Linked DNA regions of Homo sapiens. The protein of the gene in region 3 interacts with the protein of the main gene of each other region in a pairwise test. Each region holds a gene or a part of one and is shown on either strand. Other genes may lie near its edges.

Region 1 (4,059 bases), on a different chromosome or scaffold from region 3:
ACCTTGTGGAGGCTGTGCAGATGCAGGGGCTGTCTACAAAGCCGCAGGAGCAGGGCCAGGACCTAGAGGAAGAGAGCAGTGGGACTTATGGGGTGCCAAGAGGGGAGCAAGGTTACTGAGGTGGGCTTCCCAGGCTGGTACTTCCCTCCTACCCAAGAATTAGCCCCCTCCCTCAGTGGCCAGGATGAGAATAGGGAGCTAAAACTAAGCAGGAAGGAAGGCTGAGGTGGGGTTAGGCCAGCGGCCTCCGGACCCACCAATAGCAAGGATGCATATGTGACCAGTAGAGAGATGACCAGCAGGAATGCCAGGGACCAGTCCATCCAGTGTCCCCAGCGGCGGAAGAGGAATCTGTGGGAGGGGAGAGGGAGGTGTCCAAGTGGGGGAAGGGGTGTCAATAGTGGCCTGAGGGGAGGTGGGGTGGGTGGATCCAGGAAGACTAGAAGGGAGTGAGGAGAAAGCCCCTCGTGGCCAGGGGCTCCAAGGATTGAGGAGATTTTGTGGAGGGATTTTCTAAGGAGATTGGGTAGCAGCAGAGCTGGGTTTGAGCAGCTGGGCAGGGCTGGGGGATGACTGACAGTGGGCCACCCCCGGGTCCCAGGGTGGGGAGCAGGTTGACAGGTATGCTGGGGAAGCAGGGGGAATCCATGACACACTCATTGAAGTTGTGCAGGTCATTGAGAAGGACGAGCCCGATGTACAGCCAGCTCAGGGAAAGGAGGAAGGTGAGGAAGAGCAGGCCAAACCAGATACAGTCGCACTGCAAAGGGGCAGGAGAGAAACTCACAACCAATACCTACTTCAAACTCAGAGTCCCCAACGGGTGGCAGCTAAAGGGAGCTGCCTGCCCCGTGTTGGGCTGCTCTGCTCGGGGGGCAGCTCTTTCCATATTTGAGGGAGATTTTCTTCCTGGGAGAGAGAGCCCCTTCCCCCAAGCTGTCTATGAGCACAATTGGCCTCCTTATCCCCTCCAGTGAGCCTCTGCCTTCTGACTTCCAGCCTCCCCCCTCCATCCCTACTCCACCTTGCTGGTTTGCATCCTCTCTCTGGGGCATTTCCTCCAGTGGCAGCTATACAGGCAGTGGAGGCAGCGGGCCCAGACGGAGCAGCAGCCGGGGGACTCGGCCATGGTGAAGGCCTGGGGGAAGGGACACTCGACCATCAGGGACCCTGGCAGAGGGCAGATCCCAGTCTCCCTCCTAGTGTATCTGAGGAGCCCGGGGGAGAGGCAGAGGCCTGGGCCGCTGCTCAGCAACGGAGGTCACGGGGCAGGCCCAGAGTGCCAGAGTGGATGAGGCGAGCAGCCCCAGCTGCAAGCCTGGCAATGGGAGACAGTCTCCAGAGCCTTCGTTTCCCTTTAATCTTGTTACCTGGAGAGTCAGTGGGACACCCAAGAGGTCCAGCCTCTTTTCGGGCAGGATTCATATCCACTCTCTCCAGCTCCTCCCCATTTAACAGCACACACCTCTGGGGATGGAGTGCTTGCCCTGGGGGTAAGAACTCAAGAGAAACTGCCCAGGGTGGGACAAACTCAGTTCAGCAAGTTAAAGCAGGTTTGGCCAAGCTGGAGGCAACCCCATGTTGAATTGCTTTCCAGCCCAGGAAGCAGGAGTAACCTGAAGCAAAGGTTACAGTTCTGACCTGGGGCTAAGGAAGGCCCAGCTAGTTGGCCAGTTGCTATGGTTATAGAGATTATTCAGATCACAAATCCCTGAAAGATTCTCTGTGTCCACCTCTCAGGGGACAAAGGGCACTGCCAAAAAGAGAAAGACTTGAGGTGAACATGTTGCCTGGGTCACTCCCAGTCTTCTAAAGGAATCTTTGGATTTTCAAAATACAGAGCCTCCCCTCAAGTCCTGCCCTTTCCTGCCCAGTCATCCCCCAACCCCAACCAGAAGCCCAGACTCGCCTTTAGGAGCCCCACCCTCTAAGTTAGCTTTGGTGAAAGTACAACAAACGCAGGGCAAAGGTGTGTATGCGGGGTGTGGTTGTCTTGGGGCAGGGGACCCCTGTACCTTATGCTTCTGGGTTTGGCTGACTGAGCTGATCCCCAGACTTGGCTGGGTACGTGACTGATTCTACGCGAGACGGTATGTGATTTGTGTCAGCATTTGCACGCGACAGCACAACTGGCTGTCGGTACAATATGATTTTAGGTGACTTTGAGTATGTAAAGGAGCCCCTGGATACACCCAAAGTGTGTGAGCATGTGTGCGTGCGGGCTGAGGGACAGGACCTCTTGTCCTCAGAGCTCTCCCGAGGCTATGGAGTCTTAGAGGGGTGCACAGTGGGTGGGTCCGGTAAGCAGGAAGGTGTGGCTGCTTCTGAACTGCCCTCTTTATGCTGCCTTGGGAAAGGAGGGTTAGGGTAGGGGTGAGGAGCTGGAGCTGGGGGAAGGAAACCCCTCCCCTCTACGAGACCCTTCCCGGTAAAAAGCCAACCCAAAGGGAAGCCCTTGCCTCTGCCCATCTTGGAGCTGGTTTGATAGCCTGCTCTAAGCTCTTGCCTCCCCTGGGGTCCTACCCCTGCACCCCAGACACTGCCTTCCAGAGTCCCCTCCCTTCAGGAGCTGCCTGTAGGATGGGATCAGGGTCTGAGCAGCCTGAAAACCCCAAGTAGGGTTGCTGACAGGGGTGCCATTCAATCCCCCGGCCCAATCCCAGTGGGATGGAGCTGGTCTCTGCTCCACAGCTCCCACCTGTAGCCCCCCAGCCTTCCCGAACCCTCACACCTTTGCTCAGCGGCAGCTCCGCTCCGCTCTCCTCTCTGCACTGCTTCCCAGCTCCTCTCCGAGTGGTCTGCCTCCTCCCTTTTTCAGTCCTCGGTTCAGCCCTATGAGTCAAACAGGTGGCACTGTTGCCACCTACAGGAGGCTGTGTGGGTCCTCTCCCAAGGCCTGCAGCTGCTCTGTGGCCTGGGCACAGCCCGGGTGGGAAGATGGGAGGGAGGAAGCGGGAGGGAGAGCAAATCTGCTTCTTTACTCGCTGGCGGTCAGGGGGCTTGGGGTGAGGAATTCCTTTGTGCAGGCTTTCCCATCCCTCTGTCCCTCCTCCTGTTCCCCTCCCAGTCACTGCCGGGGCTTTGTCCTGGCTCAGGGAGGCGAGGGCTGAGGGCACAGGCTGGCGGGAAGCTGGTGTGTGTGGGGGGGGGAGGTGACCACACAACTTTGCAACTTGGCAGTGAGGAGAAGAGGCCCAGCCAGCCCACTGGAAAGGCGTGTGTGTGTGTGTGTGTGTGCGTGTGTGTAAGCCTAACATCAAGTCTCAAGCTCCCTGGAAATACAGCCTTGATTCATTAGGCTCCCTCCCCTATTGAGCTCCTACTTCTAATTCAGCAAGGTGCATGTATAAGAAGCTGCAGCCTGGCGCGGTGTCTTACACCTGTAACCCCAACACTTTGGGAGGCCGAGGCGGGTGGATCACCTGAGGTCAGGAGTTCAAGACCAGCCTGGCCAACATGGTGAAACCCTGTCTCTACAAAAAATACAAAAATTAGCCAGGCATGATGGTGTGCACCTACCAAAGACTAGGTAGTTGCATGGGACATCTCACAAGGCCAGGTTTAAAGCAAAGACAAGCCTTGGTCATTTGTCCCAGCTACTTGGGAGGCTGATGTGGGAGGATTGCTTGAGCCCAGGACGTCGAGGCTGCAGTGAGTTGAGATTGTGCTACTGTGCTCCAGCCTGGGCAACAGAAGCTGCAAGCTACTTCCTGAACTCTGGATAGCAAGTTGCCGTTTCTGGACCAGAGGTCCCCATGGGCCTTGTGGATCCTGGGTGACACTAGCAGTTCTCCCACCTTCCCTCATCACCCCAGACAGGAGATGCTCATTCAGGACTTGTGTCATTTCTGCTGCCTTGTCCCTAAGGCATATGAGTCTCTTTCCAAGAATCTTTTGAGGAGTGTAGAGTATATTGGGGTCACAGGCTTTTGGAAGATGAACACATAGAAAAGATGCTGTTACTATAGCATCAGCATCAGCAGGGAAGGGCTGGCTAGCACACTATAGTTTGCTTAGTGCTAAAGCACAGGGGTCTGGGTGGGATGGGGGCCAGGGGCT
Region 2 (3,500 bases), on a different chromosome or scaffold from region 3:
CCACCCGCCCCATTTGGACCTGACTGCTCGATCAGGCAATCGTTTCATTATAAAGACAAATGAGTCTGGAGGGAGGGAGAGGAAAGGGTGACATGGCCGAGGGGCGCTTGTTCTCTTGATGGCTGGCCCCCACTCACCGGCTGTAGCTGGTGCTGGAAAGTGAGCACCACGGGCTCCGTGAGGTTGGCTACTTTGGTGTTCTGTACCACAATCCCCAAGACCTTCTCACCCAGGACTTGGCTGGAATTCTTGTCCTAGATACATGGGGTTGGAGGAAGAGAGTAGGGAGGGAGTTCAGGACTGAGAAGAAGGGCCCAGAAGCCCCTTACCCTCTCTAGATAACCCTCTCCCAGCACATTGCCTTGAGATGCTGCGTCTCCCTCTGGAACCACTTTTGCCCATGTAGTCATTTACACTATAGTAAGAAGAACATTGCTTAGCCCTCTCACAGGGAGATTTGCACATTGCAGTGCAATTTGTAACTTTACAAGGAAAGGCTTTGACTCCCAGAGGAAGGAGCTCATCTGCGTGCCTTCTTTCCACCTCTGTCAGAAAAAAACTGCTTTCTCCTGGGAGGCATGAGGGTGAGGACCCCATACCTGGAACAGGGCTTGGCTGCTGAAGTCCACCAGGAGGAGTCTCTTCTCAGCCTCCCCGCTCCGGCCTTTCGTCCTCTGGAAGAGTGTTCGAGGCAGCAGCACCGAGTACTCCATGATCTCGCTCTGCTCCTCCTGCAGAGGTCCCTTTAGGGCTCAGCCAAATGCGGACCCCTAGATCCGTGCCCCCCACCCTAGCACACACACACACACACCCATCCGTTCCTGGACGCTGCCACTTCTAAGCCCATTTCTTCAGGAAGTCAAGCCTGACTCATGACAGCCCTCCTCATCCCTCCCTTCCCTGCTACCAGCTCTGGCTGGGGAGTCTTGTGGTTAGAATCCAGGACTCCAGGGCAAATAGCCCTGGGAGAACCACATGATGTTCTGTTGTCTGGGGCTTCAGATGCCAGCTCTGCCTACAGCAGCCAACTTGGGGGTGGCCATGTGGGCAGTGTGGGTGGTTCCCAGCTAACCAGAGCCACTCAGGGGGCAGTCTCAAGATGGGGTGTGTGGCTGGGTGCAGTGGCTCACGCCTGTAATCCCAGCACTTTGAGAGGCCAGGGCGAGAGGACTGCTTGAACCCCGGAGGTCAAGACCAACCTGGACAACGTAGCAAGACCTTGTCTTTACAAAAATAAAAAAATGTTTTTTGAGACAGAGTCTCGCTCTGTTGCCCAGGCTGGAGTGTAGTGGCACAATCTCAGCTCACTGCAACCTCCGCCTCCCGGGTTCAAGCGATTCTCCTGCCTCAACCTCCCGAGTAGCTGGAATTACAGGCATGTACTACCATGCCCGGCTAATTTTTATATTTTTAGTAGAGACAGGGTTTCACCATGTTGGCCAGGCTGGTCTCGAACTCCTGACCTCAAGTGATCTGCCTGCCTCGGCCTCCCAAAATGCTGGGATTACAGATGTGAGCCACTGCACCTAGCCTTGCAAAGAATTTTTTAAAGCCAGGTGTGGTAGCAAGCCTGCAGTCCCAGCTGCTCACAGGCTGAAGTGGGAGAATCGCTTGAGACCAGGAGTTTGAGGCTGCAGTGAGACATGATTACCCCACTGTACTCCAGTCTGGGTGACAAAGCAAGACCCTGTCTCGAAAAAAAAAAAACGGGGGGGGGGGGTGCGTGGACAGGCGTTTAGGGGCTGGTCTTCTGTTCACACGGGTGGCCCCAGGAGACTGGTATAGGAAGCAGACCCTGCCACTGTGCCCACACAGGGTCCTCAATCCCACGGTTGAACTACTGACTTAGGATGGCTATCCTCGGGCCTGGAACCTTCTCGGGAGGCCCCAGGGAGAGGCTGCGACGGCACTGAGCTTCAGGGAGTGCTCACAGCCCCCACCTCCATCTGGCCCCGGCCCAACCCGCATCTGCTTCCTGCCCAGGCCTGCCCCTGACCTCCTGCCGGGAGTGGATGTGCAGGTCCTGGAGGCCGGCTGTGGGCTGGAGCTTCCACACCGTGGCGTTGATCCGGTCCTCCTCGAAGGACACCATGTCCCCCATGAATCTCACAGAGGTCAGTTTCGACTCCAGGCTCTGCAACTGCCTGGCAGGGAGGAGAAAGCGGTGGTGATGGTGGGGAGGGGGCCGGGCCACCAGGGAGACTGAGGCAGGAGGACGAGAGACTCAGACAGAGACACAGGGAAGAGGCAGAGGCAGAGGCAGAGGCAGAGAGAGGGGTGGGGTGGGCAAGAGAGAGTGGAGAGCAGACAAAAGAGAAAAGCAGGCATCTGCGTGTGGGAGAGAAAGAATGAGCTGGGGTAGGGTCAGACAGAGGAGGCCAGGACCTGGGAGCCAAGGGAAAGGAGAGCAATGGTGTGGTGGGGGCTGTCCTGGGACTCAGCACCATGGGTTTGGGCCCAGCTCCGCCTGTGCCAACCTACTCTGTGGCCTTGGAGCGGCTCTGCCGTCTCTGAGCCTTGGTCTGCTGGGCTGTACTGTGGACCACCCATCCTTTCTTTATGAGGGGGAGGAGGGCTTGGGATGGTGGATGTGATGTTGGTTACTGACTCAGACAGGAGAGGGCTCAGCCTGGGGGGCATGTGTTGACTCCCAGAAGGCAGAAAGAGAAATCAAAGAAGCATTCCAGTCCCAGGGAAGGCCTCGCAGTAGCCCCTACTCCAGGTCCCACCCTGCCCAGGTCCAGATCTCTGATGCCTTCCTGCCTCCCCTCACAGCCCCAGGTGCCAAACTTACTGGCTGGCGGGGGCAGCCGAGGGCCTCCTTGAGGCCTTCTGGGGATGCTTCAGGAACTGGCTGAGCAGCTGGAGGTCCCTTTTGAGCTCGCACATGTCCACCGAGGCATTGTGAGCGGCCGTGTGGGGAGGACCTGGGGGAGGGGTGGACAGGCCCCCGCCGAGGCTGCCGATTCAGGTCCCAGGACCCTCCCATTCTGCCCCCTACCACCCTGACATGACTCTGAATGCCTCGATCTTTACTTTACAAAGGGGAAACTGAGGCTTCAAGAAGCAGAGTGGACTCTGCCAAGGCCACTCAGATGAGGCCAACCCGTGGGGGTTGTGTCTTACAGAACCCGCCAGCAATGCCAGCCCCAGCGGGATGGGGTGGGATGTGCCTTGCTCAGCACCCTCCGCAGACACCTTCGGCTACACACACGGAGCAGAGAGGGCCCAGCCAGGCCTCCTTAGGAGGGATGTGCGGGGCTTGGTGGTGGTTCCTGGGACTCCACACCCACCAGCCTCCCTGACTCCAGGCTCGGGCCCCTCTGCCCAGGTAGCGTGGGCGGCCTACTAAGGCGGCCGACTAAGGTGTCTCCAGGGATTAGCTGGGACTCAGATGAGGAAGACAAACAGTGGGGGTTGGAGGGTATACTTTCTGTGCCACTGAGGAAGGCAGGCCCTGGGTAGCTCCATCTTTTGAATGCATAACCGAGAAAGCCTGG
Region 3 (3,500 bases):
AGGGCTCTGGGTAAAGCCGGACAAGTTCCCAGGCATCAGCCACCCATCTCACTGGCCCCTCCCTTTCCCCCTCTGAAGACTCCTGCAAACACCACAGGGTCACCCTGCCAGGGAGGCAAGGATGTCACTGAGGCATGGGACCCAGGACCCATGGCAGCCCCTGCAGGATTGCCCCTGTCCTTTTTCCCATGGCAATCCTCATGCAGCCTCAATACCCCACTTCTGTTCTGCCAGGGCTGAATACCAGGGACTTGTCTCTCATGGCCTGAGCAACACTTACTGTTAGCAAAGTGCCAGGTGCCACAGTGGCTGCTGGGGTCAAGAGCTGATGATGTTTGGCCCTGCCTCCAGAAACTCATGTTCCGACTGCAAAGAGGGTGCCCACCCCTGTTCTCCCTGTCAAACAAGGGGCCCAGTGCTCCCACTTCATGGGTACCTGCACCTGCGTACACACGTGGGCTCCATATTCTCCTGGATAGACTAATCTAGGTGCCAAAAGGCTGACCCCTGGGGCCCCACATCTTCCCTGCTGGGGTGACCTAGAGAGCCCTGGCATGGATCCACTCATGGCCTCCTGGGTTCTTCCATAGGTTCTCTTGTTTGAGGCCTTGGAGGTGTTAGTCTGAACTTCTAAAGTGCAGCCTCACTATGTGCCTAGGTGGCATGACTGGGCTGCTGCCTTGGCCCTGACTCTGAGGCTCTGTTTTGGCACCTGCCTCATAAACAGCTTCTTAGAGTCCTGCCCTTGCAGTGCAGGTGAAGGCAGGACACCAGACCTGGATTTTGTATGCGGCCCTCTGTGGGTTCTCTGGCCCTGTTCTCCATCCCTCTGGAGGATGGAATGCCTGCTGCTTGCATGTTGGTACAGCTACCACCTGGCAGAGGCTGGGGTCTGCTGTGCTTCCGCACCTGAGGGCTCTATGTACACAAACTGCTCCGCCACCAGTCCCCGCAGCTGCTCTGCTGCGTCCTACCCCAGAACCTGCCCATCCATAAGGCAGCTCATGTCAGTGGAAAGAACACAGGTGTGGATTTCAGAGTCACACAGGTCTGGGCTTAGTGTCACCAACTCTTGAGACGGGTGAGTTGCCTAATCTTTCTGAGCCTGTTTCCTCTTCTGTCAACTGAAGATCGGTTCGATCAAAGAGACTTACCTCCCGGGGTCGTGGTGAGGATTTGATGAGATAATAGGGATATGGTAGATGTTTGAGAAATGTGAATAGCCATTATTATCATTTTTATTACGTTGGTATGGCCAACCATTTTCTCGTACACATCCATGCCTTGCAGAACCGAGGTGTCTCACTTCATGCCTGCTTGGAGGTGTGCACGGTGAGTCTGCCTTCAGCTGAGGCAAGGTGGGGGTTTCTGGGGTGCTTCTCCCATTGGCCAGCTTCTGAGGTCTCAGAACCATGGCCAGTGGGCTTCCCTAGGGGCAGAAAGACCTGGCTCTGGGTCCCTGGCCTGAGCACTTACCACTCTCCGCCTGTTCACTGGGAAACTCCCATTAGACTTCATGATAACGGTGCAGAGTTTCATGTCCTCGGGGTGAGTACAGTTGCCCTGTGGAGTGAGCCAGCACATGGGTCACACAAAGTGGTGGGGATGGAGGGGGGACAGAAACCCAAAGTGCAGCAGTCCATGGAACTCAGACTGGGCAGAAGGGCTCAGAGATCAGGAGGGTGGGGGCCAGAGGAGGCAGTTGGGGCAAGGGGGAAGGCTGGAATGAGACAAAAAGTGGTGGGTATGACGAGGAACACAAGGACCTGGTTTTTTATGGAGCACCTGCTAAGGGCCTGGCACTGTGCTAGGCACACTCACGTCCCTTCTCACGTGGAATCCTCAAGACCACCCTGTGAGGCTGGTATTTTGATTCCCATTTAACAGATGAGGAAACAGGCTCATAGAAGGTAAGCAACTTGCCTAAGGTCACTCAGCAAAAAAAGTGTCAGTGACAGGATCTGAACCTGATGCGTCTAGCCCAAGAGCTCTTGTTCCTTCTGTGCCCACACACTGTCTTCCTTGTGAAGGACTGAGTGAAGGGGAGAATTCACAAGACATCAGGGGGGAAATGAAAGAGAAGCACAGGAGAGACATAGTGGAGAGGAAGTCAGGAAAAGTGATGTGTGTTTGGAGGGGAGGACAGAGAGTACGGAAGGTAAAGGAAAGAGGATGGAGGAGTCAGAGGGAGCTAAAGTGAGACAGAGAAACCAGAAAAGAGGAAGAGAGGAGCCCACGGGGGTACCAAGCAAGAGTTGCCGCCTTCAGTCACAAAGATCTCCAAGCAAAGACTTCCCCTTGTTATTTAGTGTCATGGACCCTGCCTCCCTCTCCTGGAGACTCAGATTGCTCCACTGAGGTCCATGCCTTCAAAATCTGCCCTTGCCCGGCTCCTGGGAATTCCTTTAGCCTAGACCTAACCCTTGCTGAGGTTTCCCAAGCCCCCACCTGAGCATAAGATGAGCCCTCTTGGTAATGGTTAGGTGGGGACCCTTGGAGTTGGTTGGGGGGTGTCTTGAGACCTTTAGTGGAGCCCTCAGGTGGGCCCTGAAAGCTCGGCTGCTGCGTTTGGTGTTGACTCGCTTGCGGCGTCTGCGGAGGACAATGTAGATCTTGATGTAGACCAGCAGGGTGACAATGAAGGGCACGTAGAAGGAGACGATGGAGGAGTAGACCACGAAGGCCGGGTTGGCAATGATGCACTCGTTCTGGTCTGGGGGAGGGAGAGCCCGGGCAGGCAGGGAGTCAGCGGGCCCACCGGCCATAATTCCACAAGAGCCCATTCATGTCCTTCCAGGAACAAGGAGCGATTTTACAGAGAATATGAACGCAACTAGATGTTTAAGGCTGCCTGGTCATCTTAGATATACACAAACGCACAGCAGATACCAGAGTATTAAAAACACGGTTGTGAGCAAAAAGTTAAGCTGTGATGATGGACTGCTCCCAAGTCTTTCCATTACTATTCCCTCATTACTTGGTCATTAGTTTTGCCATGTCTGGGCATAACAAGTGAAGCCGATGTATCCAGAAAGAATGACACAAGAAAACTTTTAAAAGAGTAAACCATCTTTTTAGTCTGACCTGTGTATTGGGAGAGGTTGGCCACCTTTTAATGTTTGCAGCAAGATAACTTGGCTCTGTCTGTTGAACTCACTTGTGTTCCTATGTGTTTCATATGTTTGCGTGCCCTTCTAGGTCTACCAGACGCCTGTCCTCTATCTCAGGGCCTTGTGCATTAATCCAAGTATGTTTAGTGTTATTCCCACTTAGAATTCCTGTGATGCTTATAATAGATACCGAACCACACATTTTCAAGGCTTCACTGTATCTTTTGTTGTTACGATCTCCAGAGGTGCACACCTGCCATCGCTCTTGCCTCCCTGATGAGAGGAAGTTCCACGCTGGCGGGGGCTTTGTGTTGCCTCTGTCTGAGACACTCCTGACTCTGCCTCCCACAGAAATGGGCATGTGGTCAGCTTACCTCCTATTCACTTCTA
Region 4 (3,500 bases), on a different chromosome or scaffold from region 3:
ATTACAGGCATAAGCCACCGCGCCCTGCTGACCCTGTCTCTTTAAAAACAAATGCAAATGTTATTAGCAATGTTTTTCCCCTACGAATTGCCTTTTGCTCATTTTGCAAAAGATCTTGCTATGATTCAGATCACTAATCCTTAGTCATTGGCTTCTGGTTAGGCCTGGTTTCTTATCTTAATCTTGTTTATATTTGCCATATCTGAGCTTTGGGGGAGTTTTGTTTACATTAATATAATTAAATCTCATCTTTTGAATTCCTTATATGTTCTTATAATTTTCATTTTTTACATTTAATTATTTACCCATTTAGAATTCATTTTTGTGTATAGGAAAGTTGAAAGGCCAGGCACGGTGGCTCACATCTGTAATCCCAGCACTTTGGGAGGCTGAGGTGGGTGGATCACCAGGTCAGGAGTTCAAGACCAGCCTGACCAACATGGTGAAACCCCGTCTCTACTAAAATTACAAAAATTAGCCGGGTGTGGTGGTGTGCGCTTGCAATCCCAGCTACTCAGGAGGCTGAGGCAGGAGAATTGCTTGAACCTGGCAGGTGGAGGCTGCAGTGAGCCGAGATTGCACCACTGCACTCCAGCCTGGGCAACAATAGTGAAACTCCGTCTCAAAAAAAAAAAAAAAGTTGAAACCTAAACTGCTTTTGTGTCTATACTATATATTTTTTGTTTGTTTGTTTTGAGATGGAGTCTCACTCCATCACTCAGGTTGGAGTGCAGTGGCACTATCTCAGCTCACTGCAACCTCCGCCTCCTGGGTTCAAGTGACTCTCCTGCCTCAGCCTCCCGTGTAGCTGGGATTACAGGCGTGCGCTACTACACCCGGCTCATTTTTGTATTTTTAGTAGATATGGGTGGCCAGGCTGGTCTCAAACTCCTGACCTGAAGTGATCCACCTGCCTCGGCCTCCCAAAGTGCTGGGATTACAGGCGTGAGCCACCACACCTGGCCTGTGTCTATATGTTTTAACATTAACAGTCCTGACTCGTACTTGGCCCATACTTAACATAACATGATATTTATTGATGAATTAAAAGTGACTTCCTAAAGAAAGAATCCAACTTTTACTTCTTTCTCTGTAAGACTTTATAAGTCAAATCCTAACACTGCAAGTAACAACAATCCTGCACAACTCAAAAATTGTAAACTGAAGTCAATAATCCATTCCTTTTAAGCAATACTTTATATGATAAAAATACACTATATCATGTGAATTATACCTAAATAAAACTGTTCTTTAAAAAACCTATTATACCCAAGGCAATTAAACCTTATCCTTACATTTAAATTTGGTCTAAGAAGCTCTTATAATAAATATAATGCTATGATGTAAAAAAAAAAAAATTAACCAAATGTTTAAAACTATTAAGTCTGCAATTTATAACTTGGAAGCCATTAAGTCAGTAGTTCAAGAAATCAAAAGTCCTGGGCTGAGCGCGGTGGCTCATGCCTGTAATCCCAGTACTTTGGGAGGCCAAGGCTGGCAGATCAGGAGGCGGGCAAACTGCTGAGGTCAGGAGTTCGAGACCAGCCTGGCCAACATGGTGAAACCCCATCTCTGCTACAAATACAAAAATAAGCCGGGTGTGGTGGCAGAAGCCTATAGTCCCAGCTACTCAGAAGGCTGAAACAGAAGAATCGCTTGAACCCAGGAGGCGAAAATTGTAGTGAGTGGAGATCACGCCACTCACTCCAGCCTGGGCGACAGAGCAAGACTCTGTCTAAAAAAAAAAAAAAAAAAAAAAAAAAAAAAGAATTCAAAAGTACATAGTCCCCTCGTCTGAGGATGCTTTTACCTAGGTATCAACTGGCCTAGAACTTATATTTAAACATCCCTTGATTAAACAATTCAGAATCCAGTTTTTGACAAGAGAAAGAAACTTATCCATCTAATTTTCCAGAGCAAGGGCAATTTTATTATTATCATAGTACATTTGATTATTTTTTCATTTTTTAAAAATGGATTATTTAATGCATCCTCTGAATTTGATCAGTTAGCCAATATATGATCTTATTAACTTCAGTGAATAAGATGTATTGAATTCTTAATTAAGTACTATACATTGTTCCTCCTATCAGGGTAAACTCAAAGAACTTACATTTTAGAGGGAGAGATACATAAGTAAACAAATATATTTTTTTTTAATTTTTATTTTTTGAGACAGAGTCTCACTCTTGTCACCCAGGCTGTAGTGCAGGGGCACGATCTCGGCTCACTGCAACCTCTGCCTCCTGGGTTCAAGTGACTCTCCTGCCTTAGCCTCCCAAGTAGCTGGGACTACAGGCACACACCACCATGCCCGGTTAATTTTCTTGTATTTTCAGTAGAGATGAGGTTTCACCATGTTGGACAGGCTGGTCTCAAACTCCTGATGATCTCTGGTGACCTGCCCGCCTCGGCCTCCCAAAGTGCTGGGATTACAGGCGTGAGCCACCACGCCCAGCCAACAAATACATTTAAAAATAATGTAAAAAAACAGTAAGTGGGGTGCAATGGCTCACACCTGTAATCCCAACACTAGGAGGCCGAGGCAGGAGGATCACTTGAGGACAGGAGTTTGGGACCAGCCTGGGCACCATAGGTAGACCCCGTCTCTACAAAAAAAAAGAAAAAAAAAAGAAAAAGAAAAAGAAAAAAAAGAAACAATATCGGTATAAAGAATAAAGAAGGGTAAAGGATTAGAGAATAAATAAGACTTCTTTCTGGGGAAGAGATGTGGGAAGAAACACGTCAGGAAGGCAGCCATGCAAAGATGCTGGAGAATAGTATTCCAAGCAGACGGATCAGCAAGTGCAAAAGGCCCTGAGCCAGGTGTGCAAGCTCGTGTCCAAAGAACAGAAAGAAGGTCAAAAGCACTGTAAACACTGGGAAGGATAAAAAACGATAAACGTGAGGCCAGCATTGTGCCAGTAACCCAGAAATACATATTTCTCTGAACTTGAATCCTTCTAAAACAGCTAAAAATAAAAAGACATATTTTAAAAGTCACATCAAAGAAGTGACTTAGAATAGATGCTTTTGTTTAAGTGAGCTCTTCTGAACCTCCTGGAAAATCAAGCAATCTGGCTTGAAGAGGAAGTTACGAGGTTAATTTTTGTTGTTGTTTTGTCTCCAACCCTCCTCAACTGTATTTTTGGAATAGAAAATCATTTCCATAAAAGAAAATAATTTTAAAAGGATGGAGGGAACAACCCCTGCATTCTTTTTAATTATTCTTCAATGTAATAATATGTAAATGACTGCCCCACATTTTAAAGTGGTTACGTTTTCTTACCTCCAACATGGCAACTAACTCTGATTTGGAAATGCCAATTCGGTCTCGGTCACAACTGTCTACTACATAAATGACTGCATCTGTGTTTGAATAGTAACATCTCCAGTATGGCCTAGAGAAAATTTAAAAGGGGAGAACATATTGTTATTGTTTTAAGGAAGAAACTGACATATCAATTGCCAATTCTGTCCCACACATGTTAGAATCAATG

The links. The genes of interacting proteins can lie anywhere in the genome.
Region 1: the proteins of DRD2 (region 3) and GDPD2 interact in a two-hybrid assay, tested with the Homo sapiens proteins (one large-scale study listed by BioGRID and IntAct).
Region 2: the proteins of DRD2 (region 3) and ADGRG1 interact in a two-hybrid assay, tested with the Homo sapiens proteins (one large-scale study listed by BioGRID and IntAct).
Region 4: the proteins of DRD2 (region 3) and ARL1 interact in a two-hybrid assay, tested with the Homo sapiens proteins (one large-scale study listed by BioGRID and IntAct).

What each region holds. Positions count from the first base shown.
Region 1 is NC_000023.11:70,422,055-70,426,113, reverse strand, and holds the start of GDPD2 (glycerophosphoinositol inositolphosphodiesterase GDPD2), read right to left. Parts: upstream 2,801-4,059; 5' UTR 2,732-2,800; intron 1,139-2,731; 5' UTR 1,130-1,138; coding exon 1,025-1,129; intron 761-1,024; coding exon 657-760; intron 352-656; coding exon 258-351; intron 63-257; coding exon 3-62; intron 1-2. UniProt on the Homo sapiens protein: Has glycerophosphoinositol inositolphosphodiesterase activity and specifically hydrolyzes glycerophosphoinositol, with no activity for other substrates such as glycerophosphoinositol 4-phosphate, glycerophosphocholine, glycerophosphoethanolamine, and glycerophosphoserine.
Region 2 is NC_000016.10:57,652,630-57,656,129, reverse strand, and holds part of ADGRG1 (adhesion G-protein coupled receptor G1 isoform b precursor), read right to left. Parts: intron 2,928-3,500; coding exon 2,795-2,927; intron 2,145-2,794; coding exon 1,997-2,144; intron 732-1,996; coding exon 600-731; intron 255-599; coding exon 138-254; intron 1-137. UniProt on the Homo sapiens protein: Adhesion G-protein coupled receptor (aGPCR) for steroid hormone 17alpha-hydroxypregnenolone (17-OH), which is involved in cell adhesion and cell-cell interactions.
Region 3 is NC_000011.10:113,412,899-113,416,398, forward strand, and holds part of DRD2 (D(2) dopamine receptor), read right to left. Parts: intron 2,714-3,500; coding exon 2,523-2,713; intron 1,564-2,522; coding exon 1,477-1,563; intron 1-1,476. UniProt on the Homo sapiens protein: Dopamine receptor whose activity is mediated by G proteins which inhibit adenylyl cyclase. Positively regulates postnatal regression of retinal hyaloid vessels via suppression of VEGFR2/KDR activity, downstream of OPN5.
Region 4 is NC_000012.12:101,397,773-101,401,272, forward strand, and holds part of ARL1 (ADP-ribosylation factor-like protein 1), read right to left. Parts: intron 3,402-3,500; coding exon 3,290-3,401; intron 1-3,289. UniProt on the Homo sapiens protein: GTP-binding protein that recruits several effectors, such as golgins, arfaptins and Arf-GEFs to the trans-Golgi network, and modulates their functions at the Golgi complex.